2 separate regions of the Homo sapiens genome follow, and region 2 is linked to region 1. The links come from fine-mapping of genetic effects on gene expression. A gene starts in region 1. The other region holds a variant in brackets. All regions are shown on one strand. Distances are from middle to middle.

Region 1 (11,476 bases):
GCAAAATTCTCCAAACAAAATGTGCTTCCATTCATTTTGGGTTTTTGAAAAGGCCACGTCAGACAGCTCGGTAGGGAGGAGGCGGCGTTGCGAAACCCAGCACAGAAGGATCCTGGGCCCCACTCCTCGGCTCAGGAAATAATGTGTGATCTGCAAGTGAGAAGCCCCTAAACGCTGCCCTCCCTGCAAGGACCCAGTGAGAGGGGCGCCTCGGCTGAGGGTCCACCCCCCCCACCCTCCGAGTGACCTTGGGCAGCCACCCAACCACTCTGAGCCTCAGTTTCCTCATCTGTCAAATGCAGACAATATCCCTTTTCATTCCTAACCCTGGCTGTGGCTAGAAGATGGGGGGATGAAATGGGTTCTGCAAACTGTAGAGTACTGCACGTGCTGCACACCCCTAAAGGCTTCAGTCCTGGCCTGGAGGAGTTGCCAGGAGACGCTGTGGAGGGGATATAGGAACAGAACAGGCAACCCTCTCCCCCATAGGTCACAATGAAAGAAAATCTAGTCATGTGAGTCACAAAGCATCCCCCCATATTCCGATAAAGTAGGAAGTGGGCTTGTCTTTGGTGCAACACACAGGACTCCTCGGTGACAGCTTTTCTCAAAGATGCCCAGTGAGTTTGCTCTCCAGCACCCTCACTCCCTTAACCAACAGGGTCATCTGTTAGAAGAAACTGCCAAGCCTCGCCAGCCCCACGCTGATGCCAGCCCTGGGAGCTTACACACAAAAGCTGTCCTTCAAAGCCACTACAGCAAACCCAGTGGCTTGCTCTGGATCCAAACCCTGGCACCTCCACCTCACCAGCTGTGCAGCCTTGGAGACCTTACTAATAAACTAAACTAATGCTCAGTTTCCTTGTCCAGAAAATGGGAGGACAGCCCACCAGATGCCCCAAGATGCAGGGCTCCCAGGATCACAGACTTCGGACAGTGGAAGGCAGAAGGTCCCTCAGAGATCATCAGGTCCAAGTCTTCACTTTATCAAGGGAGCCCAGAGAGGGGACACGCCTCATCCAAAGAAACACAGCAAATTCGCAACAGGGCTCCTAGAAGAGTGGATGCCGACCATGACTGCACCCTACTCCCTCCACCACCAGCCTCCCTGTGGCCCACTCAGGAGTGGCCACCTCCTCTTAGAAGGACACATAACCCTCAGCATCCCCAAGCTCAACCAGCATGTGGCTGCCTTCCTGCCTTTATCCATGCAATTCTTTTCTTTTCTTTCTTTCTTTCTTTCTTTCTTTCTTTCTTTCTTTCTTTCTTTCTTTCTTTCTTTCTTTTTTTTTTTTTGTAGAGACAGGGTCTCACTATGTTGCCTAGACTAGTCTCAAACTCCTGGACTCAAGGAATCCTCCCACCTTGGCCTCCCAAAGTGCTGGGATTACAAGCATGGGCCACTGTGCTTGTCCATGCAGTTCTTGCAGCCAGCAGTGTCCTTCCCCACTATTCTCCATCTACCCAAATCCCCAAATCCTCCAAAACCCTGCTCAGCGCATGTCCTTTATGAAGCACTTCCAGTGGTTGGACAGCACCAGTCTCCATCACTAGGAAGCACCTGGCAGGATGGCTACAGTTTACAGAGTGGGGTCCTCACAGGTTTGACTCTGTGTCCCCAAGCCTGGCACAGGGCTGGACACTGAGTGGGCCTCAGGAAGCACTAGTAGCCCAAAGAACGGACAGAGGACTAGGAAATGGAAGAGTGAACAGGCCAGTGACCTGGCGAGTGAAGGAAGGGCTGAACAGGTAAACAGGTGATGATGTGAGCAAATGAATGGCCACAGGGGGAAATGCCTGGCCAGGGGCACACCTCTAAAGATGCCAGGTCTGCCCCAGCATGGCCCCTCTCCCTCTTGTAGAGACTTTGGGGTCCCACAGACCTGCTGGGACTTTAGGGGCTACAGGCCTGTAACTCCCACAGATCCTGGCTAAATGCCTCTGGGTATGCAGACCCAGCTGGAGGCCAGGAACGCACATGGACAGTCATGTTGGCAATGGCCTGGCCAAGTCTCCCCCCATTCCCCAGAGCCCAGCCCTCCACTCAGAATGGACCAGGTCGTCAAAAGTCAAAAGAAATGGATGAGTGCACACGTTGAGCCAAGACATCTTCTCAGCACCAGAGGAATGGCGTGAAGAGACAGGCACGACCCTGCCCTTCTCCACACCAGCCACACCCAGAGACATCCAAGAAGGATGGGCACGGGGTAATGAAGCAGAGGCCCACGGGGCTGGGCGGGTGGTGACAGTGACACAGCCTGGCCTGGGCATCGAGGAAGGCTTTCTTTTGGAAGCGATGCTTAAGCTTGGGTGATGAGCAGTAGTGAAACAGGCACGTGGGAGAAGGGGGCTGGGGATGTTCAGGCAGAGGAGCCAGCATGTGTGAAGACCCTGAAGCTGGAGGGAACGTGGCCTGTTCCAGGAACTGAAGGCCCGCCAGGGGGACCCGAGCCAAAGAGGGAGGGGGTGGGGAGCAAGAGGTGGCTAGAAAGTAGCTAGTTGGGGGAGGGGGAGGTTGGGTTTCATCCTGGGAGCCATGACATTTATTGAGTACCTACTGTGTACTTTCTATAAAAAAAAACCCTGCATTCAAGATTTTATTAATTCACATTTCAGAATGTTTAAATGAAAGTGTTCAAATGCACTGATGTTAGCAAATGCGATTTTCTAATGCTTTTCTGAATGAATGAATACCCATCACGGAAGTATAGGAGGGTAGGGACCACCTGCTTCTGTCACATACGGTGCCCGGGATACAGTTCCTCAGAGCCTCCCCATCATGTGAAACTGCTGGCATTTACGAAGCCTGTGGCTCACAAACCACACAAGAACCTAATGAGATGTCAGTGGGTGCCCCGATACATCCGATACGTCAGCGTCTCCCGAAAGCTCCAAAGCACACATTCTCTCCTAGTTCCCAAGTGCTGCACAGCCTTCCTTCAAAAACACCAACTCAGCTGCCAGGCAGCTTCACGCCCGGGGCACAGCCCTCAGACCTGCAGTTCCATCTCAAGGCTGGCACCCGGGGTTCCACATAACCCAGCCATCAGGTCCCGTCCAGCTCACAGTTTCTCTTCAGCATGGACACTGTCTCCAATGCCTGACACAGGCTGCCTCCCCCAACAAAAAAGAGGCTCCTGGAGGTGGGGACCCTGTCAGCCATTGCACTCCCCAGCGCCCAGCACAGGCCTCACCAGGCCTCTGGCAGGTGAGTACGGGGTCGCCATGGACACCACACACGGGCACACTCCCAGAAGTTGAGTTGCGCTGTCCCAGCTCCTGGAGGACACAGGATCCCTGGCCTACCCCTGCCACAGCGGGAGACAGGCACTCTAGCCAGCCCCACGTGCACAGCCAGCGTCTCCGGAGCTGCTGGGAACACACTCGGAGTCTGCTGCTGACTGGCCCCGACAGCCGGCTCTAGGGCCTGGTGGTGGCTCCAACACTCCAGCCACCCATCGGCCAGGCCAGGGCACCAGCTCTGCAGCCCCACCCTGGGACCAGGCAGCCCAGTGCCCTCTGGCAGAGAAGGCAAGAGAGAGGTGGCCACCAAGGAGGGACAGAAACAGGGCTCTTCCAACAGGCATTCTAGGAGATGGTCCTGTACAACTGATTCCCACCACTTCCAGCTGGCGGAAAACAGCCCCCTCCCACAAGTGAGGGCTCAGAGGCAGAGAGAGCCAGGACTCCCCCCTCCCTACTGGGGACTAGGCTTGGAGAGGAGGTGCAGTGGAGGTAGAGGCAGGGCAGGCCAGTCCCCCGGGGGCTGGAACTGCAGCCCCCTCCCGCTATGTCATTTCCACTTCCAGGCAGGTGGGGGTGCCAGGAACCCTCTCCCCATCAGCGCTGCCCTCCAAGCTTAGGGCTTCCCATTCTCAGGGCACCTCCTCTACCCACCGCTCCCGGCACAACTGGCCTTTGCCAATCACAACCCCTCCCCCATTTCATTTTTTCCCACATCAACAGTCTCTGACAGCCCCTCTCTGCAACACAGGCAGCGGAGGAAGAAGGGGAGAAGGGCCGGAGGGATGGAGGGATGGAGGGATGGAGGGATGAAGGGATGGAGGGGGATCGGAGCGGCAGGTTCGGCCAAAAGAGACCAAGGGCCATTACACGTCCAGGTAGCACCTGTCCCCTTCCAGCAGGCCCAGCACATCTGGACCCAGCTGGTCCCCGCGGCCACCTGGTCCATCCGCCACCAGCTCTGAACGCGAACCCCTGTCTCCGCGGGGCGCCGCACGTGGGGGCCTCCGGTAGCCATGTGAGTGCCCCCCCAGCCCAGGTGCCCGGGTCAGCCCAGCCCCTCCCAGGGACGCAAACAGGGAGGGGGCGCTATGCAGCGCGGGAGGGGGGTGCTGCCCCCGCCCCCTCCCCAGATGCCAGGTCAGGGAAAGAGCTCGGGAAGGGGGGAGCCGGCGGCTCCCGGGTCTACCGAGACGGGATCCGAGGCAGCTGGGTTGAATGGAGGAATGCCCGGGCCGGCATAGCCCTGCTCTCCCAAGCGCCAAGGTTGGCCGGGCACGGGAGGGGTCCGCCTGACCCCCAGGCCGCCCTGCGGATTAGGGGGCGGGCCTGAGGAGGGGGCTTCCAGGCTTTGGCAGCCGCTTGATATGGGGTACGGGGGAGTCCGCGGGAAAAAGAGCCGGAATGGGGATCCGGTCCCGGACAGGGGTTCCGGGCCCCGGTGCCGCCGCCCCCGATTTGAGGGTCCGGGGAGACATGGATGGGGCGATCCCAACCGGAGAAGGCGCTTCCCAGCCGCACAGCCGGCCCCTCGGACCCGGGATCGGAAGACAGAACTGGCAGGGGAGGGGGCTTTTCTGCGCCAGCGCCGTCCCCCGGTTCAGGGAGGTCTGTCGGGGAGGAGACCAGATCGGGGGGTCTAGCCGAGGGACGGAGCGCGCCGGCCCGGGAAGGGGGTAGGAGCCGCCGCGCGCCACCCCCGCGCCCTCACCTGCGCCGGGCGCCTCGGCCGCCTCCGGCCCGCTCTGCCGTTCCGCTGCGCCGCCGCCGCCTCTCGGGTCCGCTCGCAGGTCCGCGCGCCTAGGCCCCGGCCCCCGCCCCGGCTCCGGCCCGCGGGCGCCCCATGCCTCTCCTCCGGCCGGCGCGGCGCCCCAGATGCGGCTGCGGGAGGAGGAGCCGTGCGGCCCCGGCTCCCCGAGAGCGGCGGGGAGGGGGCGGGGAGAGGGGAGAGGAGCGCGGGGGAGGGGGCCGTGCGGCTGCGCCCAAAACCAGGCGCGGATCGGGCCGCGGGCGCGGGGCTGGGGGGGCCTTGGGGGGGCCCGCGCCGTTCCTGGCGCCCCACCCCCACCCACGCCCCCGCAACCCGGGGGAAGGGGGAGGGTCTCCGCAGCGGGCGACCGCTCTGTCGCGATCCGGAAGAGCGCTTGGAAATCCGGGGCCGCCAGTCCAGAGAGGGCAGGCTACTGGAACAAGGTCACACAGCGCGGGCCGCGGTGGCACGGGAGCCTGGAACCCCAGGCTACGGGGCGGGCCGGCAGGAACCTGTGTTGACCATCGCCGCCCCGTGGAGGAGGGAAACTGAGGCCCAGAGAGAACGAGACTGGCCCGGGTCACACCGCGCCAGTCAGGAACCACCCCACCCCCGAGAACTTGGGGCTCCTGCCTCTAGGAATGGGTGCCCCCTCCCGGTGACCTGCTTCCGCAGAACCCTCTCCCAGGTGTCTTCTAGCCTCTGGCTGAACGGGGGTTAAATGCAGTCTCTGGAGTGGGATGAACCTGAACTGCGTACCAGCCCTGCCTCTCCTGGCTCTGTGGTTACAGACAAAAGACTGTCCCTCTCTGAGCCCCATTCCTCCACCTGTAAAATGGGGACACCACGAGTCTCTATCCCCAACTTGGGTGAGAAACCAAAGAGATCATGGGTATGAGCTCTTTACCGGTGCCTGGCATTCAGTAGGTGTCAAATGAATGTGCCTGCCTTCTCTGGCTCCCACACACAGCCATCTCCAGAGAATGCCTCTGAATGCAGAAGGGTCAGAATGGCGTGAAAGGGTGGCCTGCAAGGCTCCTCACAGCCCTGTTCCAGTCTCCTCCACCACCCACCCACCCTGCTCACATCCCCAACCCAGTGATGACTGTTTCAGTGCCCAGCCTCTGCCTTTCCCTGTGCCTGCCATGCCCTCCCACCTCTCTACCTGACAAACTCCTACTCATCCATCAAGGCCCAGAGCAATCTGTTTCGTACCCCAGCTTCTCACACTCCCTACTAGTCTACCCATATTTCCTTTCTCCAGAACACATTCCCCTTTCCCCAGTGTCTGGTCTGGGTTTGTCTCTATCTTCTCTGGCTCTAACAACTGGGGTGAGAGGAGGTCACTCAGAGGAGATGACACCCTGAGGCCCAGCGCTGCCCAAGAGGGCTTCCTGGAAGAGGCAGGGCTTCAGTAAAGCCTGGATGGAAAGGTGAGTTTAACACCTGCATGCAGCAGGCAAAGAGGTGGCATGTTTGGGCAGGGTGTCAGCAAGGAGGAGAGTGGGCTCCCTGGAGCAGTGGGAAGATCTTGGCGAATGAGCTGGGAGCCAGCGAGAGCCAGGGGCTGGACAGCGACCTGGCGGTATATATATGATCAGGTTGAAGATGAGCAGGCTTTGCCCTCGAGAACACCTCACATGGGGGCCCGGGAGGCTTGCACAAGGATGCTCATAGCAGCATCGTTTGTAATAGTGAAAAGCTGGACACAGCCTAAATGTCCATCATTTGGAAACTGGATAAATAGCAACACATTCAGACAATGGAAAACTGTCTGTGATCCACAATCCTCAAAATAGGTGATTGCAAGCTTATGCATTGTGAGGCTGAATCTCAAAAACACACTGTTGATTCAGTTTGTGAAAATCCAGGGTTGTACACTTACAATTTGTGTGCTCTTTGTATGAATGCTATACTTCAATACAATTTTTAAAATAAAAATATATATTGTTGGATGGAAAAAGCAAGTTGCAGATGGAAAACATAATTTCATGCCAGATACATAAAGTTTGAAAACACACAACACAATACCATATATTGTTTAGCGACACATACATATGTAATACAAGTGTAAAAGCATGCATGGGAGTGATAGACAGCAAATTCAAGAGAGTAGTGACCGTGAGGGAGAGAGGGAAGGGAATGTTGTAGTAAGGGCTTTAAATATACTTGAAGTGGTTTATGTCTTAAGCCGGGGTGGTGAGCACATGGGTGTTTGTCATGTTGTTCTCTAGACTTTTTTGTGGACATAAAATATTCCTATTGTAATACTTTTTTGTTTTGTAGAAAGTCAGGTGGTGCCTGGGAAGGCAAGGGGGTGCCATTGCTGGTTCTTGAGCAGGAGTGTGACATGGCAGTGGACTGGAACAGGCAAGACTAGAGAAAGGAATGTCAAGGAGGCTAGTGTGATGGCACAGGGGAGAGATGCAAAGCCCTGAGTGGGAACAAGGATGGGGTTATGGGGAGGAGGGGAAGGAAGGGCAAGTTTTAGAGGAACAAGCATTGGGCACGCTTAGGCAAGGGTCACAAACCCAAATGCCCACAGGGCTTGGACAGGTTGTTTAAGCAAGTTGTGAGCCTGGAGTTGTGGGGACTGTGACACATGGTCCAGCAGGGGCAGCCCCTACTCAGCACTAGCTGATTTTGCCATCTAGGGAAGGAGACAGTGGAGCCATATCTTATTTTTTCAAGAGAAGCTAGCAGTTAAGATTTTCTGAAATGTAAAACTTCAGAAAATCCCTGAAAATAATGGCAACTAGAGTGAAAAAATTGTTAACTCTATGCAAACCAAGCCATATAGGTTCACAGTCTCTCCAGTGAGGAAGAGACTTCAGGAGAAGAATGAAGGGACAATGACACCGAGTTTTCCTGCCTGTGAGGCTGAGGAGGCTCACAACCTAAGCAGCAATCAGAGAGGGCTTCCTGGAAGAACTGACACAGGGTAGCGAAAGGGGAAGGCATTTCTGATGGAAAGAACAGTATATGCAAAGGCAGGATTGAGTAGAGTGAGCCTAAAAGAAAAAAGAGCAAAAAACAGGAACAGGCGTTTCACAGAAGGGGAAACATATGGCCAGTAAACATACGAGGAGGTGCCTGACCTCGTTAGTCATGGGGGAAATGTAAGTCAAGACCATGATGAGATGCCACTGCACGCCCAGTCGACTGGCAACAATGAGAACGTGGGACAATACCAAGAGCTGGGGAAGCTCTAGCTCAGTGGCAGCTCCGAAGCTGCGGCCGAGAGGGTGATCTGGGCCACCCACTGCGACCCAGCACTTCCACTCCTGATGTGTATGCCCAAGAGAAACCCATGCAGAGGTACACTCGGCCAGTGCTTCTCAAACGTGAATAAGCCAGTGAATCCCCCAGGGGTCTTGTTAAAATGCAGATTCAGTTCTGGCGGGGCTAGGGCAGGGCCCCAGACTCTGCATTTCTAACAAGTTTCCAGGTGATGCCCGGGCTGAGGATGCCCAGACTGCATTTTGCAGAGCTTTAGGATTTACGCGCAGGAACAGCCACACAGCACTGTTTGCAATAGCAGAAGACCAGAAGACAGCCTGACTGTCCATCGACGGGAGAATAAAAAAAGAAATAAATAATGGTATAGTCACATACAGCCTTCAGAACAAATAAATCATGATTACATACAGCAACATGGCCACATGCTCATCAACAGCATTGAGCTAAAAAGAAAAGACAAGACTATATACAGTATGGCACTTTTTAACATAAAATTAATAAACAAGTAAAAACAAACTACATATTAATTAGGTATGCATGCATGTAATAACACTAAAAACAAGGAAACTAGGGGAGGATAAACTCAAAATTCAGAATCTTAGTGACCTCCAGCAGAGAGCTGGGGGATGGGATGGGGTGCAGCACAGAGGCAGATGTCAGATACTGATTCTGTTCTAGTTCTTGGGGTGAGCAGTGGCTCAAGGTGCATATGTTAGATTATGCTTTCTACTATCTTGTATTATATACACTGTAGGACTTGATGCACCAATGCTGAAGGCATGTCATGAACCAAGGACTCAGTTTAACTCACTTGTGTGTATCTGAAGTATGTATTTTTAAAAAGAGAGAGAGAAACTCATAGAGACAAAGACAGAAAAAGAGATGGAGAGGTCCACAGAGATGCAGTGAAAGTGGAATATAAACCAGGTCTGTAATTTGATAATGATTAAATCCGGATAATGACCATATCTAGCTAATGATGACATTGAGCTTGTACCAAACCAGTCTTGGCCAAACCCCATGACTCAGGTACAAGCTCTGCAGTTTCTCCTGAAGACAACAAGCTGTTTCACACCTCAGCCTTTACCTGAAATGCCTCTTCTCCCATTGTGTAGTCACCTTTCAAAATTCAACTCGAATGTCACCTATTCTGGGGAAATCACCCCTGACTTCTATGTCTCATTCTATGTCTCATTCCTGGTTTTATACCCCCAAAACACTTTATGATGACAAAGACACACCACGTCTCAAAGCAAATGCTGTTGGTGCCCATCTTGAATTCTGCTGCAGCCTTGGTGGACAGCTCCTGAACTCTGGTCTGCTGCAAGCACCCACCAGGTCTCTCCACTTTTCTGCCTGATGGCATTTTCTGAAGTTGCAAGAGCTTGTCCCATCCAAGCACAGGACGGCTTGGAAATGCAGGAGAGTAAGGCCCCCAGCAGAACCTTCAGTCCCTTGGGGAAAAGAGTCACAGAGGAAATGCTGCAGCCTCCGAGCCTTCAGGGAGACAGTCTCAGGCACGCTTTCCACTGTTCTTCAGAACGTCCCCAGCAAGATGGAGCTCCAGTGGCCCACAGTGGTGCCCTGCTGGCAAATGCCCATCTGACTGACTTTCCCTCCTCCTCTGCCTCCCTCCTGCAGACTAGGATCACCTCTCAGATAAACTACCTGCACTCAAGTGCCTGTTTCAGGGTCCACTTAGGGGGAACCCCCGCTTAGGCACACCTGTTACTTCCTCCTCTCCCACAAGACTGGAAGTAGCTCCTTGGGGTTCAGGCCACATTAAATTAATATCAAAGCATGGTATTTGAGACCTGCACAGTTATACCTGTAATCCCAGTGTTTTGGGAGGCTGAGGCAGGAGGACTGCTTGAGGCCAGGAGTCCAGGGCCAGCCTGGGCAACATGGCGAGACCCCATCCCTACAAAATTAAAAAGTTAGCTGGGTGTGGTGGAGCATGCCTGTAGTCCCAGCTACTTGGGAGGCTGAGGTGGGAGAATCACTTGAGCCTAGGAGGTCAAGGCTGCAGTGAGCCGTGTTTGTACCACTGCACTCTAGCCTGGGTGACTGAGGGAGACCCTGCCTCAAAAAAATTTAAAAAGGCAGCATTTGACAGTCTGGGTTCATACCGTGTGCTGCTTGCATCATATGAACTTGGCCAGGCTCAGCCAAAACAAGCAGAAGATTCTCAAACTTTTAATGACACTTAATGACATGTATCCCAGGGGAGGGGAGCTATGCAGAATTACCTCCTTTTTTCTCCTCTCCTATATTTTCCAAATTTTCTATATTGTCCAAATTTGTTCCAAAATAAATTTCTAAGTGTCATGTATTCCTTTGCTCTATTTTGATTTGTTTTCCCGGTGTGGGGGAGTGTGGGCTCTGGAGTGAACAGGCCTGGATTCATATCTTGGCTCTGTCACACACTGGCTGTGACTGGGCAAGTTACCCAACCTCACTGGGTCTCAGTTTCCACATTCAAAAAATGGACACAGCCCAAAACAACACAAACATCTACTTTGCAGGGTGGCTGGGACTGTTATAATGGAAGCACGTTGTGAACCACAAAGTGAATTGCAAGGCTGAGTTATCGTCTTCCCCGGGGCTGGCATCAGGCCTGGCATGGAGGAGGTGCCTGGGAAATGTTTAGAGAACAAAATGATTGAGGCTAGGAGTAGCAATTTCACACTGTACCTTATCTCATCCATTCATTCACTCACTTGGTGCCCACTGATACCCACCCAGGTCCAGCCCCTCCTGGGTACCAGGGATGCAGAGTTGCATGAGGAATGTCACTGGCCTCAAGGGGCTTGCTGCCCACGGAGGAGACACAAGAAAACCCACCACTCCTGGAGGGCACTGACTGAGCCTTGGGAGAGGGTCAGAAGGGTTACAGGAAGAGGTGACCCCTAAGCTGTGCAGGACTTAGCCTGAAGAGCAAGGGGAAGACAGAGGGGACGTTGCAGCGTAAGGACATGCTCAGAGACCTGGAGGCCAGGCTGGGGCACATCTGAGCCACTACTGGCAGCTCACTGAGACGGAAGCCTGGAGAGCTCAAAGGTGAAGCCAGAAAGGTTGGCAGGGGCTGGATCATCATGACCGTGAGGTCCTCTCAAGGCATCAGGACTTTTTATTGAAGGTGATAGTGATCTATAGAAAATGAGGACAAGGCTGGGAAAGAACTGTTGATTTTTTTTTTTTTGGAGATGGGGTCTGGCTCTGCAGCCCAGGCTGGAGTGCAGT
Region 2 (11,476 bases), 120 kb before region 1:
GATTACAGGCATGAGCCACCATGCCTGGCCTTTTTTTTTTTTTTTTTTTTTTTTGCAACAAGGTCACAGACAGCTCACTGCAGCCTTGGCCTCCTGGGATCAAGGGATCCTCCAGCCTTGGTCTCCCAAAGTGCTGGGATTATAGCTGTGGGCCACTGTGCCTGCCTAGAGAGGCCTTCCAAAAAGAAGGACCTAGGGCAAGGGCCCATCTCATCCAGGTCTGAGGGCAGTACCGTCCAATTGTTTAACAGAGGAATTCCTATGTCAAATGGAAGCCCTCTGCAAAAACCTGCTCTGCCCTTCACCGAATGTCTACCAAGTATGACTGCTGGGCAGGTGCTGAGGGCTTCTGACACCAAAGAGGCCAACAAGCCCATAGGCCCATCATTTCCAATTGAGATGAAGCAAAGATGGCCTGGAATAGAGCTCTCAGAGTCAATAACAGGGGCACGTCCTCAGGACAAGCAAGGCAAGGGCTCACAAGAGGGTGGCATTTAGGTGCAGTTGCTGTGCCTCAGTTTCCCCTGTTGTAAAATGGGAACATCCTGGAAATACTAGTCCAAAACTTAGGTAAGTCCCTTCCTTTTCTGAGCCTGGGCCTCAATCTTCCTGTCTGCCATGGAGCAGAGAGGTTGGCGAGGTTTCTAAGCCCACCGGCCCTGTACGTGGGAGTACCAAGACTTGGTTTGGCCTGAGCCTGGTGTGCTGAGGATTGGCAAAGAGTCAGTGTGGCTGGAGCAGAGCAAGTGAGGACAAGGTTTGTGGAGGGAGGGCTCTCAGAGGGGCTGGGTCAGGTCACAGCACAAAGGCTCTGGCTGACATCAAGTATGGAGGGCAGAATAATGGCCCCCAAATATGCCCATGACCTTGTCAAAAGGAACTTGGCAGGTGTGGTTATTTTGCAAATGTGATTAAGGATCTTGAGATGGGGAGACTATCATGAATTATCTGGATAGGCTCAAGCTAATCACACGGTCCCTATAAGAAAGAGGCATGGGCTGGGCATGGTGGCTCACACCTGTAATCCCAGCACTTTTGGAGGCCAAGGCAGGTGGATCACTTGAGATCAGGAGTTTGAGACCACCCAGGCCAACACAGTGAAACCCCATCTCTACCAAAAAACAAAAAATTAGCTGGGTGTGGGGTGTGTGCTTGTAATGCCAGCTACTTGGGAGGCTGAGGCTTCTGGAGAATCACTTGAGCCCAGGAGGCAGAGTTCGCAGTGAGCTGAGATCGTGCCACTGCACTCCAGCCTGGGTGACAGAATAAGACTCTGTCTCAAAAAAAAAAAAAAAAAAAAAAAAGAAAAAAAGAAACAGGAATGGGCCAGCCATGGTTTCTCATATCTGTAATCCCAGCACTTTTGGAGGCCAAGGCAGGGCAGATCACTTGAGGTCAGGAGTTTGAGACCAGCCTGGCCAACGTAGTGAAACCCCATCTCTACTAAAAATACAAAAATTACTGGGTGTGATGGCGTGCGCCTATAATCCCAGCTACTTGGGAGGCTGAGGCAGGAAAATCACTTGAACCTGGAGGTGGAGGTTGCAGTGAGCCGAGATTGTGCCACTGCACTCCAGCCTGGGCAACAGAGTGAGACTCTGTCTCAAAAATAAATACATAAATAAATAAATAAACAGGCAGGAAGGTCAGAGTCAGAGGAGATGTGCCAACAGAAGCAGAGATCAGAGTGATGTGGAGACATGAGCCAAGGAATGCAGGCAGCCTTCAGAAGCTGGCAGAGATGGCTGGGCATGGTGGCTTACGCCTGTAATCCCAGCACTTTGGGAGGCCAAGGCAGGAGGATTGCTTGAGGCCAGGAGTTTGAGACCAGCCTGGGCAACAAAGTGGGACTGTGTCTCAAAAAAAGAGATGAATTCTCCCCTAGAGCCTCCAGAGAGAATGTAGCTCTGCAATCCGTTTTAGACTCTGACCTCTAGAACATCCTATGAGACAAAGTGCGCCAGTCTGGGAACCAGACAGCACAAAGCCACACGGAACCAGGACTGGAACCCAGGTCTTCTTGACTCTTAACGCAGGCCCCACCCAGCCCACTGGCCCTGCTGAACTGGAGGATGTGCAAAGAAAGGGGACAGTGTGGGGGCTGGATCCACCAGCTGAGGGGCAGAGGGTGGGGAGGATGGGACGGTACCAGGTGGCCTCAGCAAAGAGTGGATGTCCATCTGGCCCAGCATGGCCCAGCTTCCACCAGCTTCTCCAACCTTGTTCCCATCTCTTACTGTCCACCTGCCAGCCAAGCTCACACCCTTCAGGATTTCTTCATAGCTCTCACTGCTCTGGGAAACTCTCATGTGTTTACTTGTTTGCTAGTTTCTTGTCCATCTTCCCCTAGATCTGAGCTGTCCAATATGGTAGCCACTGGGCCACAGAGCACTTGACATGCAGCTAGTGCGACTGGGAAACTGAATTTTTAATTTTTTAAAAAGTTTAATTAATTTAATTTAAATAGCACATGTGGCAAGTGGCTACCAGGTTGACAGTATAGTCCTAGAGGTTCAACCCTCCTCTTGCAAGGTGCCTCCCTCCCTCACCCCTGCTAAAGCTGGGTTCAGCACACTTTCTTATTCTAACACCTTTTCCACCTTTTTGAGTTGGACGTTTAGTTCATTTGTTTTCTGATCTCCTTATACTCTAATAAATGTGTCACAGAAAAGCTATATATTTTCCCCTGAGTATCTATTAGCTGCATATTATGGATTGTATTTTTCCAGTTTTTTTTCCCTTTTTTATTTTTATTTTTTGACACGGAGTCTTGCTCTTGTCGCCCAGGCTGGAGTGCAATGGGGTGGTCTCAGCTCACTGCAACCTCTGCCTCCTGGGTTCCAGCGATTCTCGTGCCTCAGCCTAACTAGTAGCCGGGATTATAGGCACGCACCACCACGCCCAGCTAATTTTTGTATTTTTAGTAGAGACAGGTTTTCACCATGTTGACCAGGCTGGTCTCGAACTCCTGACCTTCTGTGATCCACCCACCTTGGCCTCCCAAAATGCTGGGATTACAGGCGTGAGCCACTGCACCCAGCCTTTTTTCCTTTTTTAAAAAAAAACTGAGGAGAAATTAATGTAACATAAAATTAGTCATTTTAAAGTGTACAATTTAGTGACATTTAGTAACAATGCTGTGTAATCACTACCTCCATCTAGTTCCGAAATATTTCCTTCCTTCCTTCCTTCCTTCCTTCCCTCCCTCCCTCCCACTTCTTTCTTTTGATGGACTCTCACTCTGTCACCCAGGTTGGAGTGCAATGGTGTGGTCTCAGCTCACTGCAACCTCTGCCTCCCAGGTTCAACCGATTCTCCTGCCTCAACCTCCTGAGTAGCTGGGACTACAGGTGCATGCCACCACATCCGGCTAATTTTTGTAATTTTTAGTACAGATGGGGTTTCACTATGTTGGCCAGGCTGGTCTCTAACTCCTGACTTCATGATCCGCCTGCCTCGGCCTCCCAAAGTGTTGAGATTACAGGCATGAGCCATTGCACCCAGCCTCTTTCTTTCTTTTGAGACAGGGTCTCGCTCTGTTGCCGAGGCTGGAGTGCAGTGGTGTGATCATAGCTCACCGCAGCTTTGATCTCCTGGGCTCAAATGTCCTCCCACATCAGCTTCTTGAGTAGCTGAGACTATAGGTACATGCCCAGCTAATTAGAAAAAACATTTTTTTTTTTTTTGGTACAGACAGGAGTCTCATTATGTTGCCCAAGCTGGTCTGGAACTCCTGGGCTCAAGCAATACTCCTGCCTCAGCCTCCCACAATGTTGGGATTACAGGCATGAGCCACCACACCCAGCCCTGAAACATTTTCATAACCCCAAAAGCAAACCGCATCCCCAATAAGCAGTCATTCCCTATTTTCCCCTTTTCCCAGCTTCTGACAACCACGTCCATAGATACTTTCCGTGTCTATGAATTTTCCTATTTCCCGTAGGTATTACTTTTATTGTAGCAAAATACATGTAACATAAAATTTGCCATTTTAACCATCTTTAAGCGTGCAATTCAGTGGGGCATTATGGACACTCACAATGTTGTGTAACCACCACTATGATCTATTTCCAAAACCATTCCATCACCCCAAACAGAAACTCTGTACCCATTAAGCAAAAACTTCTTTTCTCCTCCTTCTCCTAGCCCCTGGTAATTTCTTTTATTCATTTTTTTTTTTGAGACAGAGTCTGAGAGTCTCGCTCTGTCACCCAGGCTGGAGTGCGGTGGTGCGATCTCGGCTCACTGCAACCTCTGCCTCCTGGGTTCAAGCGATTCTCGTGCCTCAGCCTCCCAAGTAGCTGGGATTAGAGGCGCATGCCACCATGCCCAGCTAATTTTTGTATTTTTAGTGGAGAACGGGTTTCACCATGTTGGCCAGGCTGGTCTTGAACTCTTGACTTCAAGTGAAATGCCTGCCTTGGCCTCCCAAAGTGCTGGGATTACAGATGTGAGCCCTATGCCTGGCGGCCCCTAGTAATATTTAACCTACTTTCTGTCTCTCTGAATTTGCCTATGCTAAATATTCTCAATATGTGGAATCATATAACATTTGTTATTTTGTGTCTGACCTATTTCACGTAGCATAATGTTTGTTTTCTAAGTTCACCCATGTTGTAGCATGGGTCAGAACTTCATTCCGTTTTATGGCTGCATCATATTCCATCCTGCATATATAGTACATTTTGTTTAATCCATTCATCTTTGGATGGACACCTGGGTTGTTTCTACCTTTTGGCTATTGTGAATAATATTGCTACAAACAATGGTGTCCAAGTATCTGTTTGAGTCTCTGTTTTCAATTGTTTTGGGTTAATATCCAAGTGGAATTGCTGGATCATACAGTAATTCTATGTTTAACTTTTGTTTTGTTTTGTTTTTGAGATGGAGTCTTGCTCTTGTCGCCCAGGCTGGAGTGCAATGGCATGATCTTGGCTCACTGCAACCTCCGCCTCCTGGGTTCAAGTGATTCTCCTGCCTCAGCAACCCGAGTAGCTGGGATTACAGGTGCCCGCCACTGCACCTGGCTATGTTTTGTATTTTTAGTAGAGACGGGGTTTCACCATTTGGCCAGGCTGTTCTTGAACTCCTGACCTTGTGATCCACCCGCCTTGGCCTCCAAAAGTGCTGGGATTACAGGCGAGCCACCACGCCCAGCCCCTATGTTTAACTTTTTGCGGAACCACCAAACTGTTTTCCATAGCAGCTGCACCATATGACGTTCCCACCAGCAATATACAGGGGTTCCAGTTTTCCCAGATCTTGCCAGAACTTATTTCCTTTTTAAAAAAATTATAGTCATCCTAGTAGGTGTGAACTGGTATCTCCCTGTGGCTTTGATTTGCATTTTCCTGATGACTAATGATGTTGAGCATCTTTCCATGTGCTTATTGGCTGTCTGTATATCTTCTTGGGAGAAATGTCTATTTAAGTCCTTTGCCCATTTTATAATTGGGTTGTTTGTCATTTTTGTTGTTAAGCTCTAGGAATTCTTTGTATATATTCTAGATATTGAACCCTTAGCAGATATATGGTTTGTAAATATTTTCTCCCATTCTGTCTTTGTGGGGTTTTGGTAGTATTTTTCTCCTCTTCCAGGACTGACCACTTACTCGCTCTTTCCTTCCCCATTAGCACTGATGGCTTCCCTTCCCCCCAGCATCCCCTGGCCTGTGAGCACCATAAAGAAAAGGAGT[G/A]TAAGGCTGGGCATGGTGGCTCACGCCTGGATTACTTGAGGTCAGGAATTTGAGACCACCCTGCCCAATATGGCGAAACCCCATCTCTACTAAAAATACAACAATTAGCCAGACGTGGTGGCTTGAGCCTATAATCCCAGCCACTTGGGAGGCAGAGGCAGGAGAATCACTTCAATCTGAAAGGCAGAGGTTGCAGTGAGCTGAGATTGTGCCACTGCACTCCAGACTGAGTGACAGAGCAAGACTCTGTCTCAAAAAAAAAAAAAAACAAACAAAACAAACAAAAAAACAGGAGTCCATGTGCCCGTAACTTTCCTGAGAGCAGGGGCTGGTTCTCATCTGGGGTCAGAGGAATGAGAACGGCTCTGGAGATGGATGTGCAGTGGATGCTGTGATGGCCACCCAGGACCCCCCTGCACAGAGGCACTCACAACCCCAGCTGCCAAGAGCATTGGCTGCTGACAATTCACAGCCAAGTTCCCGCTAGGAGCTGCTCTCAGCCAAAGGGAGATGCCTCACCCAAGATGCCAGACTTGGATCTCTAACTGCCTCCTTGACATCTTGCCCTGGAAGTCTGACAGGTCCAAGATACAGAACTCATTCTCCCACCCACCCTGACCTGCTCCACCCATAGTCTGTCCTTATGCTCCTTCCCAGGGGCACCCTGCATCCAATAACTGGTCAATGTTTGGGTACCAAGGTGTGGCTCCCTTGCCCCAATTCAGAACAACCCTAAAGGGCCATCCCAGTTCCAGAGCTCCCTATGGGATTCGCTGAGGCCTCTGTTGTGCTGTATTGAGGTTCACCTCTTCCCTCTGCCCAATCCTGTCCCCTTCACCTGTCACAGATGTTCCGAACTGATTTCCCAGGAAACTTCTCATGCAAACCTGAGTCTGTTTCCTGGGGAAGCTGACCTGAGATAGGACGGAACTGGATTCTACTTCTTCCCCTCCTCACTGCAGGACACTTGGTGATTCAGTCATTCCCCCTGAGCCTCGGTTTCCTCTTCTGTAACATGGGGATAATGATCCGTTTTCGGTTTTTTTTTAGACCGAGTCTCATTCTGTCACTCGGGCTGGAGTGCAGCGGCATGATCTCGGCTCACTGCAACCTCTGCCTCCCGGGTTCAAGCAATTCTCCCGCCTCAGCCTCCCGAGTAGCTGGGATTACAGGTGAGCGCCACCGTGCCCAGCTACATTTTGTATTTTTGGTAGAGACAGTTTCCCCATGTTGGCCAGGCTGGTCTCGAACTCCTGACCTCAGATGATCCACCCGCCTCGGCCTCCCAAAGTGCTGGGATTACTGGCCATGATCCTTACTTTTAAAAATTATAATAAGGTTGAACTGTGATGTCATATAGAAAGCCTCGCATTTCGATGCCCAATCAGTATCAGTCACACTCTGTTCCCCTCCTCACCTCACTATACTGTGCTTCTTGGGGACAGGCCAAAGCTTCCAGGTGAGGAATGCTGCACGGCATGGTGGAAACTGCATGTAGTTGGACCTGTATTCAAATACTGTCCTTTTTTTTTTTTTTTTTTTTTTTTTTTTGAGACGGAGTCTTGCTCTGTCACCCAGGCTGGAGTTCAGTAGTGTGATCTTGGCTCACTGCAACCTCTGCCCCCCGAGTTCAAGGAATTCTCCTGCCTCAGCCTCCTCAATAGCTGGGATTACAGTTGCCTGCCACCACGCCTGGCTAATTTTTGTACTTTTGGTAGAGACGGGGTTTCACCATTGGCCAGGTCTCGAACTCCTGAGCTCAAGTGATCCGCCCGCCTCAGCCTCCCAAAATGCTGGGATTACAGGCATGAGCCACCATGCCAGACCCCTTGGATTTAAATTCTAAACCTGCTATTTATTTGCTGTGACCTCGTACTGGTCCTTTCCCCCTTCTGTGCCTCAGTTTCCTCCTCTAGGCAATGGGGGGCTTGAATGAGGACGGTCTGAGCATCTGGTCACCCTGACTCCTCTGAGCTCCCTTGATCAGGGTTCCTGGCCCAGTGGGTGACAGGCCCTCAGCCACCCAACACCTAGGGTGGCAGGATCCTCACCTTAGGGAGGTCTTAAAATAGGCAGGCCTTGCCCTTGCAGGGGGAAGCAGCTGGCTGCCTCGAGCTGCCTTTTTCAATGAGCTATACTTAGGCCCACCCGGGTGCCCATAATTACTGCTCATTAATATAAGCATCATTGCCCTTATGGAAACGTGGAGGGCCCAGCAAAGCTGCTGCCTCCCTGGGAACCTCCCTGCTCCATGGTGCCTCTGTGTCTGCAGCCGCCACCCCCACATGCCAGAGTGAGACCTCCCTGCCCTACCTCATCTCATCGTGGTGCCAGAGTGGGCCTGTGAGCATGGGAGAGCTAATTAGGGACAAGGCCAGGAACAGAACCTAGCATGGCTCTTCCTGACACAAAACTCACCTGACTGCATCATTCCCTTAAGCCAGAACCTTCTGTGAATCCTTCTTCCCACCTCAGTCCAAACTGCTTGGTGTGGCAATCAAGACCCTCACTGATCTAACCATAAACCTTTTCAGATATTACCAATCCCATTTCCTTTCTTGACGGCCCTTCCCTTTAACCAGCCTGGATCCCTTACAATTCCCCACTCATATCTTGTATATTTGTTACTACCAGAAAGCCTACTTCTGTCTAAGGTTGCATTAACAGAGGTAGAGAGTCTAAGTGAAGGGAGGGGTGGTCCTGCTCAATGCTGAGTTAGATGATGAAGGCTTAGAAATGAAGTGAGGTGGAATGGCCGAACATTCTGGGGGTGTACATAGCAGTCCATGGAGGACACATTCTCTGCCTTAGACCTCTGAAGGGACGATGTGTGGAAGGGGAAGGATGGATTCTGTGGGGGCCTCCAGGGCCTTGCTGCTGCCTGGGGTGGGGTGAAGGTAGAGAGTGGCTGGCTGTGTTGCGCCATGGCTGTGTCTTTGGGCACCCTTCCCGTGCTCAACCCACATCTCTCATACCTGCTCCGGCTCTTGCTGGCTTCTCTCCTCTGACGTCTAAATGCTAGAGGACCCGGGTGCTCTCCGCCTTGCTCTAACACACCCTCTCCTCTGCTGATCTCATCCTGACGCATGGCCTTAAACACCACCTATCTGACAACTCCTGAATTTACATCTTCCGCCCAATCTGTCTCTCAGACGCCAGACTCAGATCTCTAACTGCCTCCTTGACATCTTGCCCTGGATGTCTGACAGGTCCAAGATAGAACACGGGATCTCTCACCCGCCCCGACCTGCTCCGCCCACAGTCTGCCCCGATTCTACTCATGACAACATCATCCTCCTGCTTGTTCAGGTCAGAAACCGGGAAGTACCCTTGACTCCTCTTTCACTACCCCAGCATCCCATTCAGCAGCACAAACTGTAAAAACAAGTCTCCCTTCCACATATCCCCAGAGTTCCTCCACCTACCACCTCCACAGCCCTGCCCCAGGCCGAGTCCCCACTATCTCTCACTCAGATGACTGCTGTTCAGATCCTTTCAAAGACTCCCATGGCCCTTGGACTAAAACCTATTCTCTCTTTTTTTTTTTTTTTGAGACAGTCTCACTCTGTCACCCAGACCATAGTACAGTTGTGCGATCTCGGCTCACTGCAACCTCTGCTTCCCAGGTTCAAGCGATTCTCCTGCCTCAGCCTCCCAAACAGCTGGGATTAAAGGCACACGTCACCACGCCCAGCCAATTTTTTTGTATTCTTAGCAGACACGGGGGTTCACCATGTTGGCCAGGCTGATCTCCAACTCCTGACTTCAAGTGATCTCCCTGCCTCGGCCTCCCAAAGTGCTGGGATTATAGGCATGAGCCACCGCGCCCGGCCCCTAGTCTTCTTTATTAGTATTATTTTTTGAAATAGGGTCTTGCTGTGTTTTTTGCCCAGGCTGGAGTGCAGTGGCATGTTCATAGCTCACTGCAGCCTTGACCTCCTGGGCTCAAGAGATCCTCCGGTCTCAGCTTCCTGGGTAGCTGGGACTATAGCTGTGCACCACAGGCACGGCTACTAATTTTTTTTTTTTCTTGAGACAGAGTTTTCGCTCTTGTTGCCCAAGCTGGAGTGCAATGGCACAATCTTGGCTCACTGAAACCTCCGCCTCCCAGGTTCAAGCGATTCTCCTGCCTCAGCCTCCAGAGTAGCTGGGATTACAGGCATGCGCCACCACGCCTGGCTAATTTTGAATTTTTAGTAGAGACTGGGTTTCTCCATGTTGGTTTGGCTGGGCTTGAACTCCCGACCTCAGGTGATCCGCCCGCCTCGGCCTCCCAAAGTGCTAGGATTACAGGTGTGAGCTACCACACCCAGCCTAATTTTTGTGTTTTTTATAGAGACAAGGTTTCCCCATGTTGCCCAGGCCAGTCCTGAACTCCTGGGCTCAGGTGATCCGCCCACCTTAGCCTCTCAAAGTGCTGGGATTACAGGTGTGGGTCACTGCGCCTGGCCAAAAACCAGTCTTCTTCTGGCTTTCCCGACCTCATTTCCTGCCCCTCTTCCCTTGGGTCTTCATTCTGTCCTTGGGACATGGATGGTTTGCTCCTGCTTTTGCCCTACCTGATCCAGCTGCCTGGAGTGCTCTTCCCTCCTGTGTCCACACAATGCCCCCTCACTTCATTCAGGACTTGGCTCACAGGCTACATCCACTGAGAGGCGATCCCTGACCACACTGTCCAAAGCAGCTCCTCGTCTGCCAGCCCCTCTCTGCTCTGATGTATGCCCGAAGCAGCCTGGAACAGCAAGTACAGACTGTGTCTCTGCCACCACTGCGTCTCCAGCATCCAGCACGGGGCTTGGATATAGTAGGTGTTCATGAAGATTGTGTTGAATGAAAGAGTGGTGGAAGGCCTTGGGGACGCCAAGAAATGATCCAGAAAGTGAGGCAGCTACAGGGTAGTTAAGTTTTCCACTCAAGCCAATCAGGCTAGTGGGGAGAGCTGTGTGTGATCCTTTATTGAGTGCTTATTGTATACCAGGTGCTTCACATTATGTGAGCTCATTTAATCCTCACTACAACTCCTCCTGCTGGGAATATTGCATCCACCATGGCAGCCAGCCTCCAAGATACACCCCGGTGGTCCCCACCTCCTGAAGTCCCATCCTTGTGTACACCCCTCTCCCTTAACATGTGCAGGGTTGACCGGTGTCACCAATAGGATATTGTGGAGATGACCAAGTGTGACCTCTGAGGCTAGGTCAGGAAAGACACTGCAGCTTCTGCTTTGCTCCCTTGGAGAAGTTAGCCGCCATGTTGTGAGGACACTCAAGTAGTCCTAAGGAGAGGGCCATGTGGAAGGAACTGAGGCCTCCTGCCAACAGCCAGCACTAACTTGCCAACCCTGTGGGTGAACCACCTTGGAAGGGGATCCTGCAGCCCCAGTTAGGACTTCGGATGGCAGTAGCCCCTGAAGTAGGACTTCAGATGGCAGTAGCTGACAACTTGACTGCATCTCATGAAAGACCCTGAGCCATTACCCGATTCCTGACCCCTAGAAGCTCTGTGAGATGATACATATTTATTGCTGGAAACCATGGCCAAGTTTTGGGGTGATTTACTATGCAGAAATAGGTCACTGAGGGCCAAGTACAGTGGCTCACACCTATAATCCCAGCACTTTGGGCTGAGCAGGAAGATCACTTGAGGCCAGGAGTTCAAAACCAGCCTGGGCAACATAACGAGGACCCCATCTCTACAAAAAATAAAGCATGAGAAAATTAGCTGGGTATGGTGGCACGCAGCTGTAGTCCCAGCTGTTCAGGAGGCTGAGATGAGAGGAT

The links. PIP is the estimated chance that this variant, and not a neighbour inherited with it, causes the effect.
Region 2: its variant is fine-mapped to the expression of DLGAP4 in whole blood (TOPMed, PIP 0.99).

Annotation. Positions count from the first base shown.
Region 1 is chr20:36,299,991-36,311,466 of GRCh38, reverse strand. It overlaps DLGAP4 (DLG associated protein 4), which reads right to left and starts at 5,128. Exons shown (of 13, transcript NM_001365621.2): 1 at 4,955-5,128.
Region 2 is chr20:36,419,227-36,430,702 of GRCh38, reverse strand. The region is part of intron 2 of DLGAP4 (DLG associated protein 4); the gene reads right to left. Among named protein-coding and RNA genes, the nearest start is that of MYL9, 120 kb to the left of the region's middle. The variant G/A (reference allele first, on the strand shown) is at 5,697.